2 separate regions of the Homo sapiens genome follow, and region 1 is linked to region 2. The links come from fine-mapping of genetic effects on gene expression. A gene starts in region 2. The other region holds a variant in brackets. All regions are shown on one strand. Distances are between the middles of the regions.

Region 1 (5,382 bases), 24 kb before region 2:
AACACATCCAAAGCCAAACAAATGACTTAGGGTTTTTGGACTTCTTGAGTTATCTGTACTACAATGCCCCTCTCTTTTATGGGTCATTGAGAGTTGGCTGTAATTTCCATTTGGTGTTAAATCATGAACATATGAGTAGATATAAGCCAAGAAGCATGTACATCATCCATATGGAGCTGTTACAGAAAATACCCTGCTGATGCTGAAACAGTGAAAATAAGAAGCCAATCTTGCTGGAACAGTAAAAATAAATGTGAAGATCGTGAAGATAAAAGACCAGAGTATAGAAAAGTTGACCTTAATTTTCTTATTTTTTTCTATGCTACTCATTGTTCTATTTTTCAAATAAAAATTGCTGTTGAATACAGAGATTTGCATAAAATTCATGAAAAGTTGCATGCTAGAGGGCAGGACAAGAGAGCTTTTCAGCATAAGTGCACATATTTGTATCTCTCAGAATAATTAGTCATAGCGAACCAAGCAAACTACGTTTTTACCGTGGTGAACATTGCAAACCATTATTCAGTTATCTGTGAAAACTTCAAATGCCCTTTTCAAACACTTTTTAAAAATAGAATAGTGAATCTGTGTATTTGAGAAAAATACAGATAAGAATATGCTATATACTATCCAAGTAACTTATTAAGTCTTAAAAGAATTTTTCTTGGAGACTAAGCATCATATTTTGTAAAATTATACAGATTTAAAATGCAATAAGGTCATGTTTATCCTGCAGAAATTTGAAAACTGACATTGGTTTTAAACTTTGGTCAAATTTATTCTTGCTTTTTGACTGGGTCATTTTAGTAGTTCATTTAAAAATCATTCTAAGTAAAGTACAGTATTTGTTGTATTATTAAGGAGAATAAAGAGGAAAATCGAACAGTGAAATCTTTTTTATTTTTTCTATCATGGTTTTATTTGACTTTACATGGCTACATGGCTGAAATATCAAGGTTGGGTTATTTTTTGCATTATCTGTTTATCTTCCTTTTATAGATAAATAGCATTAGGATTTTGCTGTTGGCAAATCACCTCTTGCTTTTGATCATGATACAAGTTAACTCTCTAGCTTATGTCCAGCTAGAAAAAAAAAAGGAAACTAGCATAAGAATGGCAAATGCCATGGCTCACTCCTGTAATCCCAGCACTTTGGGAGGCCGATGCGGGTGCATCACGAGGTCAGGAGATCGAGACCATCCTGGCTAACACAGTGAAACCCTGTCTCTACTAAAAATACAAAAAAATTAGCCTGGCGTGGTGGTGGGCGCCTATAGTCCCAGCTACTCGGGAGGCTGAGGCAGGAGAATGGTGTGAACCCAGGAGGCAGAGCTTGCAGTGAGCCGAGATCGCGCCACTGCACTCCAGCCTGGGCGACAGAGCAAGACTCCATCTCAACTACAACAACAACAACAACAAAAACAACAAAAAATGGCAAATGCCTTATTTATTGACAGAAACAGTGGACCAAGACATTTGAAATCAGTTAATTCATCTGAAATAGTGGTCCCAGGTGGACCCAGATTTGAGACTTCAGTTCTATTTAGCACAACAGGGGTATAAACTAGTCAGAAATATATTATTTCAGAAACCTGAACCACAAAGTGGTCCAGGAAACAGCCTGCAAAGGTGGAAAGAGCAATGGATGAAGACTCAGGAAACCTAAGGTCAAGTCCTACTACTTTCACTAAGAAACAGGGAGACTTTGGCCAAGTCATTTCCCCTCTCTGAGCCTATGATTCTCATCTGCAAAGTAAGAACAATAATACGTCTTCTGTTTTCTTGGGAGGATAAAATCAAATCAAAGTTTTGCAAACAATAAAATGCCAGAGCTTTGTACTTCATTCTCAGTATTGAGAAAAAGTTTTGCTATTCTCCTATAAGAATTAACTATTGGTTGTTTATCTTTATGTCATGTGTAATATATAATTTGTTGTTGTTTAATAACTGTATAATGTTCCTATTCCACTAGGATGCCAGCTGGTATAGTTTACACTGAAGTCAAAACAGATAAATACAGAGATGAATCATATCAGAAAGAATAGTGGAAGCATTCGTAAGTGTTATATGTTAATGGTTATGCCCAAATCAGTTTCCATACCCAGTATTTCCATTAGGAATTTATGAAAAGTGGTTTGATTTCTTTGAGCTTCTAAATTCTATTTCGATGCCTTGTTGTTCCCTAATCCTAATTCCCTAATTTTGAAAGCCTATAAACCATCAACAGTCTTTACAATTGATTGACTAGAATATGCAGAGGGCACTGTGGGTATTCTCAAGTGGTGGCACTCAAAAAGGAACCAGGTCATTATCTGTACTCATTTTTTTTTTCAGTGACACAATGTTGCAGTGACATTATCAGTCTCTTAATCACTCAGTCAGACAATGTCACCATCTCTAAGCACTAAGCAAGCAACAGAGCACTATAGTTACGTAGGCTGTGCCTTGCTTGCATACTCCCTACACTTCCGCTGAGTACCCCACACCATCTTTCCAAATACACAAGTAGGGCTTTGTACCCCTTCCTTAAGCCAGAGGGTGTAAGTACAACAGAATGGTCAGAATGAGAAAAACTTTGAACTCCATATTTTGGTTATAGTAAGTAGTCTTAAAGTGTCAATGACAATTATTGTCATTTAGAAAGCATTTGGACTACAAGTATTCTTGGATGTCTTTCCTAGAACTGCTAGTGGCACCACTTAACTATTTTGGAACCATTGGCATACACATTGTTGGCTGGAAAATTCAACAGCCATTTCCAACTCTCTTCTCCCTGCTTCCTACAGATGTTGGAAGGCTAGGTACTTATAGCTAGGTTTGGCCAGAATTTGTTTGAGACTTGGGGAAACTATTGTGGTTTCCTGATAACAAAGCACGTGTGTC[T/C]TCTCCTTTTCATTCTTCCTGCTAAATTGAAGACATAATGTCTGAAGCTATAGCAGCCTTCATGTGACCATAAGGTGATAAAACCTCACCACACACACACACACACACACACACACACACACACACACACACACACACACAAACCCAAAGGCCAAAACTTTGAGTGTAGCAGAATAAAGAGATGGAAAGAGCCTGAATTCTTGAGGACACTGTTAAGCTGTTTGCTCAACAATGAGACTGCCTTACTTCATACTTAACAGTGAATATCCTCATAGATTCAAACTATACTCATCATCCGGTATTAGTTACTTTCAACCTAAAGCTTTCCTAATGAATATAAGAAGTATTCATAGGGAATATTGGCAGTTTTAGAAAGGTGAATAACATTTTTCCTTAGAAATGCCCATGTCATCCATCACTTAGATTGCAAAAGCAAAAGATTAATAAAGTATATACGAAGGAGGAGCCTGATAGTAGAATTTTTTTATTAGACATCATTTTCATATCAAAAATTTTGAATTGTCCATTGCTAATGGGAAGTCCTCTCACCTTAAATTTAAATTCTTATCTTTTAATCTCTATTGAATTATAGCAATATTTTTGTTATTTTCTACCCTCCATAAAAGGGAGTAAACTTAGTATCTACAATGTTGGGATAAAAGGCATCTTTAAATCTCTAAAAAAAAACATAAACAGACATCAAGTAGTAATTGTAGTACAGCAGCCTGCAACCTGCCTGCTAATGTAGCCTACAAAAATGACAAAAAAAGGAAGAAATGAATCAATATAAAAACCATGCCCTTATCATAGCTTAAGGACAGAGAATGCCCAAACTTCAAAGTAACTGTGAGTGAAAAGATAAAATTCACCTATTCCCAGAGTTTCATCTCTCGTGGTCCTGGCCCATGTCTGTCCTACTGTAAGGCTCTGTGGCCAGCAAAGGCAGACTGTAAGCAAACAAACAAACAAAAAACCTCAGGGAAGACAAATGAGGGAAGCTAGGAAAATGTGCTAAGTTTATTTTAAATCTACTTCCAGAAAGAGTAAGTCCACTTTAATCCCGAAAATACTAAAATAAAAAGTTTCTAGGAAGATGAGAACATGAACTATAAGGAGAGAACTTAAAATTATACATAATTAAAAGGGGCACATATGGTTTAAAGGAGTCAAGCACTCTTTAAGCAGGCAGGCATGATGTAAAAGAGCAGGCATGATATGAAGGAATTGGCTTCAAAACACATAGCTTTGGCAGGGAGAAGAAAAGTAAGAAGGAAAGGAAAAGAAATATTTGACAATTGGGTAGTCAAAAGGAATACAAAGGCAAAGGGGGGAAATTTAGGGCCCTGCAAGACAAAAGAGAACCACATCATCTAAGCACTTACAACTCCCACATCACAGCCAAAGTACCTGGTCCTTTCTATACTGACAAAAGAAGATGGCATTTAATTTGCAGTCTTATAAAAATAACTCAGTACCATAAAAATGAACAAAAGAAAACTGAAGTTAACAAAGCTATGACAGAAAATTAGGAAACAAAATATCATATATATGAACTGAGGAACCCCCCCCCCGAAAAAAAACCTATGAATCATATAAAGAAGTAAGTCAACACACCAAATAGAATTAAATAAATTTAAACAAGCTTGTGAGGCTATAAAAAACTACCTTGAGTCAGAAAGTCAAACACTAAAAGTAGAAATGAACTAAACACTGGAAGAAGTAAGAGAGATGAGTAAACTCTGCAAATAAATGGAAGAAAAATACAAAATTATCTTATAAAAGAAGAATAAATTACAAGGGATCCAAGGGAGAAGGAATGGGTTGAAATGAAAATGTAATAAGGGGCATTGAAAAAAAAATGCAATAAGGGGCAGAGAAAAAAAAGCAAAAAGATTAAAAGACCACAAAATATAAGTAAAAAACAGTCAAAAGGAAGGTAGTGGAAATGGAAGAGAGGTAAAGAAGGAATAATATTTCTATTATTGGAGTCCCTGGAGAAAAAATGCAGAAACACTGAAACAGGACTAATATTTAAAACTATGAAACAAATATCTTCCCAGAAATAGAAAAATGCCTGAGTTGACCCATGAGTACTTAGGGAAATTAACAGAATTTTCAACTCTAAAACATGACCTGGTAACATGATTACATTTAAAAAATAAAAGTAAAATCTTCTAGGCCTCTAGGCAAAGCGATCGATTAACTTACAAAACAATTGGACTGGCACAGAATTTTCATAATCAACATACAAGCAGAACAGCAATGAAGCAGCATTTTGAAAATAAAATGCTCAATGAAATAAAGTATAAACCAATAATTGTACATATTAATACAATCAGGCTCTCCTTCAAGTTTCAAGACTAGAAAACCAGTTTTCAACATTCAATAATTTAAAGAATTTGATATTCATCACCTTGTTCTGTGGAATACACTAGGGGATAAGTTTCATCCAATCAAGTTATGACTGTGAAACTTCTGCAAAAGAACATATGGTGACAT
Region 2 (5,323 bases):
CAGAGCCACGGATGCACAGAGTGAGGAGGAAGGGAGAAAGCACACCTTGGATCAGAGAAGACAAAGCTTCTATCTTGCTCAGTAGCTGATGCTCAGTGAGCAGGTGCCAGGCCCGGCCAAAGAGGCCTCAGGGACAGCCTGGCCCCTTCAGTGTTGCCTGTCTTAACCTCATCTCTGTTTGAGGAGAGTGGCTAGGAAGTGGGGGCTCCTTCCACCCAACCCAACCTTCCTGCTTGGTTTTGATCTCAGGAAGGGAAAGCCCCTGCCCCTCTTTTGAAGCAGCAGCCGGCACCACTTGTCTCTTCTCTCCTTCCCGCAGGCACTTCTGTTCATAGTGCTGCCTCTTGCTGGCTCCTTCTGCTTCTGCTTGGTCCTCCTGCTGATTGGGAAGAAAGTGCACCAGTGAGGTGATGGGGGGCTGGAACTCTTAAAGGGGCAGCTTTATTTCTGTTGAAAATTTGTTTGCCTAGCATGTTATTTTTTTTTCTATCTTTCCCCATTAAATACAATTTTGTGAGAAAAGTAAACCAGAAATAAAGTGACCATAATCACCATTTAAATGTTAATTGTAGGTGTTCTGGCTTTCCTCTAAGGATTTTCAAGCAGATCAAGTACTAATGCTGGCAACCATCATCAGCAATCAAATCCAATTTGAGGATTTTTTACTGAAGGCATAAAGGTCGGGGGCCACAGATCTGAGCGAGGCCGTCCTTGTTGCTTTAAGGGCTCTCAGTCCAGGGCTGAATACTAGAATTCCATGAATAAATAAGTCACAGAGATAATTTGAAAATCCCCAGCACCATTTTTGCCAATAACTGTTTCTCCATAGAGTCTTTTTGACCAGAGGAGTTTACAGGTAGCCAAATCTACAAGCCACTTTGAGATGTCGTCTCCCCTTGGCTGCCCACTGGTTGATTTTCCATCAGTCAACCAGCATCTGTTGAGGACTTGGTCCCATGCAAAGTAAATAGACATCTAAGCAAAGTCCCAGTGGATGCTTGAGTTGCAGAATCTTAGAGCCTTGTTTCTCTATGTTAATGATGTGCTTTCTTTCCCCCCGTAAAACAATGTGAAAGAGACCAGACCCTGGGCCCCTTGTAGCTCAAATGCTGAAGTCATTCATGCTTGGAGCTGAGGCACCTTCTACTGGCTCCAGCCCTGGAAGAGCTTCCCAGGTTCTAGGTTCTAATCTGGGATCCCCCTCTAGGGGAAATATCAGATCTTGAGCATTTTAATGTCTTAGGGTCTCTGTTTCTTCAGGAAAAAAATGAAGTTAAAAGGTATTTGGATGATTTTGGTAATATGAGATAATACTGTAGAAGCATATTCAAATAGAAGGGAGAATGTCAGAGAAGTATGAGCCAGAGGGCTGCTGGGTGTTTTATGGAGAAACTGAGGCCCAGATAAGTGACTTGCTTGGAGTCACACACAGAGCTACCGGCACCCTGCTCTGTCAGGGCTCAGTCTGCTGTCCTTCCCAAGAGAGTTCTAGCCTTAGGATTTGAAAAATGTGCCAATACTATTCCCTCTGTATAACGACACGAAGAAGGCAAATTACATGCCTAGGACTCCAGAATGCTCATGTCCTGAAATGCCAGAAAGCGGTCCCGCCCCTTCCCACAGACCTTTCTCTGCACGGAGGCCAGGGAACCTTTCCCTCCAGGGAATTGGCTAAAGGGATCCACTCCTTCCTGGATCAGAGGTGGAGGTTGAAGGGAGTAGGAGGCTCGGTTAAACCCTCCACGTGCAGAAAGAGAATTTCAGGCCAGAAGGGAGACGGGCAGCCGGTGCGTGGGATACTGGGCACACACCCAGTGGTTTTCCCATTTCTCAGAGGAGGAGCTAGCAGAAGTCTTTTGCTCAAGGCACCTGGTGACCGTGCGAGGAAAGTGACAGTGGAACCCAGTTTAACAGTATCCTAACCCCGAACTCAAGGACCACGCAAGGGCAGTCATTTGTTCCTATCCTTGCTGCCCACTGAATCCAGGGCCTATAGCTCGCTGACCTACTAGGTGCGCGCCTAAAGGCATGCCTGGAGGGCCTGGGTGCGGGCACGTGGAGCCACGGGGCTGGTGAAGGTGACCGCCTTCTCCTTCCTGGACCCGCGTGCTACGCACTACAGACCTGAGGGATGCTCAGGCCCGCAAAGTTTGCTCCACTACTCGGGGGCTCAAGGAGCTGTGCTTGAGGTGGCAGGGGGCGACCTTCAACCCCACGGCTGTTTGTGCTGTCTTTTCTAGTTCAAAACTAATTCCCAGTGGTGGGGGTGGGCTGGGCTTCAGAGAGGGGTCCCATTCCCGAAGCCCGCGTCCTGGTCCCGCCAGCCCACCTCCTGTATCCCTGCCACGGCCCCTGCGTCCCGGGTCCGGGTCCGGGTCCTCAGCTCTGTGGCCGCTCCCACTAGCTGATTTTGACAGTGGGGGGTGGGAGAGGGTTCCCGAAAGGCAGGGGCGGGCGCGGCGAGCCCCTGCCAGATCCGGGGATGATAACGTGCCTGCTCCATGTCGCGGCTTCTAGCTGTCCAGGCTCCGCCCCCTGTGAGTGTGTAAGTGTGTGATGCTGCCGCGGCCGCCGCCGCCGCCTGTGCAGCCGCTGCCGCCGCCGCCGCCGCCGCCGCCGCCGCCGCCGCCGCCGCCGCCGCTGCCGCCCCGGCTGCCGCGCCGCGCCGCTGCCTCTGCCCCGGCCGCCCCCGCCGCCGCTGCCGCCGCCGGCCCGCAGCCAGCCAGGCGGGCGGCCCAGCCCGCCTGAGCCCGCAGCGGCTGCCGCCGCAGCGTCGGGTCGCTGGGTGCGCGGGCTACCGCGGACCGAGCGGACCCGAGTGGGCGACCAGGCGCTTGCCCGCCCAGTGCCACTGCCGCCGCTTCCTCGCCGGAGCACAGGACCAGACACCTCCAGCGCCCGCTGCTGCTGCCGATGCGGCCCGGACACTTTTAGCTGGGCGGGAGGGCTGGAGAGCCGGGGGCCGCCGAGAACCGCCAGCGAGCTGTGCCGAGAGCCGCGCCGACCCGCTGCGATCAGGGACAGGCGCCCGCCCGCCGCCGCCGCCTGGCCGCTATGGATCTATTCGACTTTTTCAGAGACTGGGACTTGGAGCAGCAGTGGTAGGTGTTGATTTTTGCCTTCTCCTTTGATGAGCGAGTCTCCTGGCGAAGTCTGAGGTTTTCGCCTTTGTTAAGAGGAGCTGAAGCTGTCGTGGGGGGCGCCCCGGACTCCCTCCCACTTGCTCTCAGCCACCTCTGGCCCCGGCCGCGCTGACTCCTAGGTCGGATGCCGGGGTGGGGGGAGGTGCGGGAAGAGGGAGGGATGCGGACCCGAAAGCGTCGCTTTGCGCTCCAAGTCTAAAGAGTTGCATTTGGCTCACATCGAATTCGGTGCCGCCCGAGGGCTGAACCGCACGACCTCCCAGGAGCTTTTCTCTCGGAGCGGCTTGCCGGTCTGGCCTCCTTGAGCCCCGGATGCCGCCCGCCCGAAATGTCTCAACTTTCCAGGTGCCCAACGCCCGCGGCGGGCCATGGGGGAAAGGCAACGGCCAGGTGCGGCCAGCAGCCCTCTGCTTCCTTGGTGGCCACCGCCCCCGCTGCCGCCACCTCCATCCCTGCGCTGCGCGGCGCGCACACCTTTCCTTCTGCCGACTCAGCCCAAGTTCCCTGCACTCCCGGGTGGAGCAGCGGCTTTGGGGGCCACCACTCAGGGGACCTTGGTTCGAGGCCGACTTCGGCGCTTGGCTTTCAAGACTGAGGGTTTTCGGAGTTGGCCCCCCAAATCCGCAGCTCTGATGTCAATGCACATTTAATTACCGGATGGACCCCCTTCGGCCTCCCACTGGGAGGCAGCCGTAGTTTTTTGTAAGGGACCTCCAGCTCAGATTCAAAGGTTGAGTCAGCTCTTCACAAAATACCCTAAACTTGTCGCTGAGACATTTTGAAAGATGGTAGAAAGGTGACTGGGGACCTGGAAAGTTGTTAACTCTCTTAGAGATGTGCGTGCGCGTGTGCATAAATACTGATATACATATCTATTAACTTTTCAAAAACTTCACCTACTACAAACATTATCACAGTTTATTTGTCATAATACTTAAACGTATCAGATTCCCCCCGCAGTCTAAGGAATTAGATGGGGAGGGGGCGCAGTGGTAACCGCTTAAAATTGCATTCTTGGTTATTGCCTTTTAAAATGTATTTAGAATGATCTGTAGTACCTACCAATAGTGCGAAATCTTTTGCAATGTTAAACTACTAGCGGCCGTTGGTTATGAATGCTGTGTATTTTTACAAGGATTTCCCCTGTTGATGTGATATTTTAGGCAATTTCCTTCTTTAAAAAAGGGTCATATGCTTAGCCAACAGCTTCATTATGCCAATCATGCCTCCTTTAGTTGCAAATCCAAGATAGTCAGAACTTAAATACATTTTATTTTACAGCAATTCCGGATAAATCCTTGAAGCGCAAATTATGCTGTATCAGTATTAATCTATAAGGCGTTTTGGATACCACGGTTTTATCAGCTCTGTAGAAATACATTGTTACATTAAAAAATGCTGTTATTTGAAAGTAAAAATTACTATAAAATTATTGCTCAATTAGATATTATGCTTCTGCACACAGCCTTTACTCTGCTTCACTAATTTATTTTGCAGACAACTGATAACCATAGCACTCTATTTGCATACAATTTGCCTAATATGTGGTGTGGGTTACATCGTTAATTTAACAGACATTGTTATAATTAATTTCATGGGTATAGTTCAAATGTTAAACATATACAAGGTATTAGGTTTTTAGAAACATGTTTTTTATATTAATTCCGGTTTAATCTTATGCATATGCAATTGCATATTTAAAGGGAATGGACTCTTTTATGTTTGATTTCTTTAAAAAAAATGATAGGCTCCCTCACCCCTGTGGGAGGCTTTCTTTTTCTTATCTTAAGGAAAATGCAAAACCTTTTTTTCCTCCAGATCCCTAACTGAGACACATCAGTTAAGAAGCATAGACTTGGACACTTCGTGAATATTATGTGAAATACTGATTAATTAGTGTAACGCATCTGCATAAATAAGCCTGTCCTTTCCCTCTGTACATGATCCAGGAAAATTTCTCCTTCTTACTGCTCGTGAGTGGCACACTTCGTGATGCATCTCTGTTTATAAACATTTGTAATGTGGTTGTGCTTTTGTGTTTTGTATAGCTCCACAGAGAAAAGGAACATAAATGTGACAATAGTGGATGAACTAAAAAGCTTGACATTGTCTTGAGTGGAAATTGGTACCTTTCCCACTTCTCTTTGGAAGTCCAGAGCATGCCAGTTACGTGTTCATTA

Direction of the effects. Positions count from the first base shown, and alleles are read on the strand shown. Sizes are in standard deviations (SD) of each study's normalised expression.
In carriers of allele C in region 1, the expression in lung of the gene that starts at base 2,574 in region 2 tends to be higher than with T alone (small effect, 0.28 SD a copy in GTEx).

Evidence for each region. PIP is the estimated chance that this variant, and not a neighbour inherited with it, causes the effect.
Region 1: its variant is the best candidate, but not a certain one, in a credible set for the expression of AFF2 in lung (GTEx, PIP 0.84).

Annotation. Positions count from the first base shown.
Region 1 is chrX:148,473,802-148,479,183 of GRCh38, forward strand. No RefSeq gene overlaps it. Among named protein-coding and RNA genes, the nearest start is that of AFF2, 24 kb to the right of the region's middle. The variant T/C (reference allele first, on the strand shown) is at 2,884.
Region 2 is chrX:148,498,044-148,503,366 of GRCh38, forward strand. It overlaps AFF2 (ALF transcription elongation factor 2), which reads left to right and starts at 2,574. Exons shown (of 21, transcript NM_002025.4): 1 at 2,574-3,101. The coding sequence starts at 3,055. RefSeq lists an enhancer at 3,234-4,111.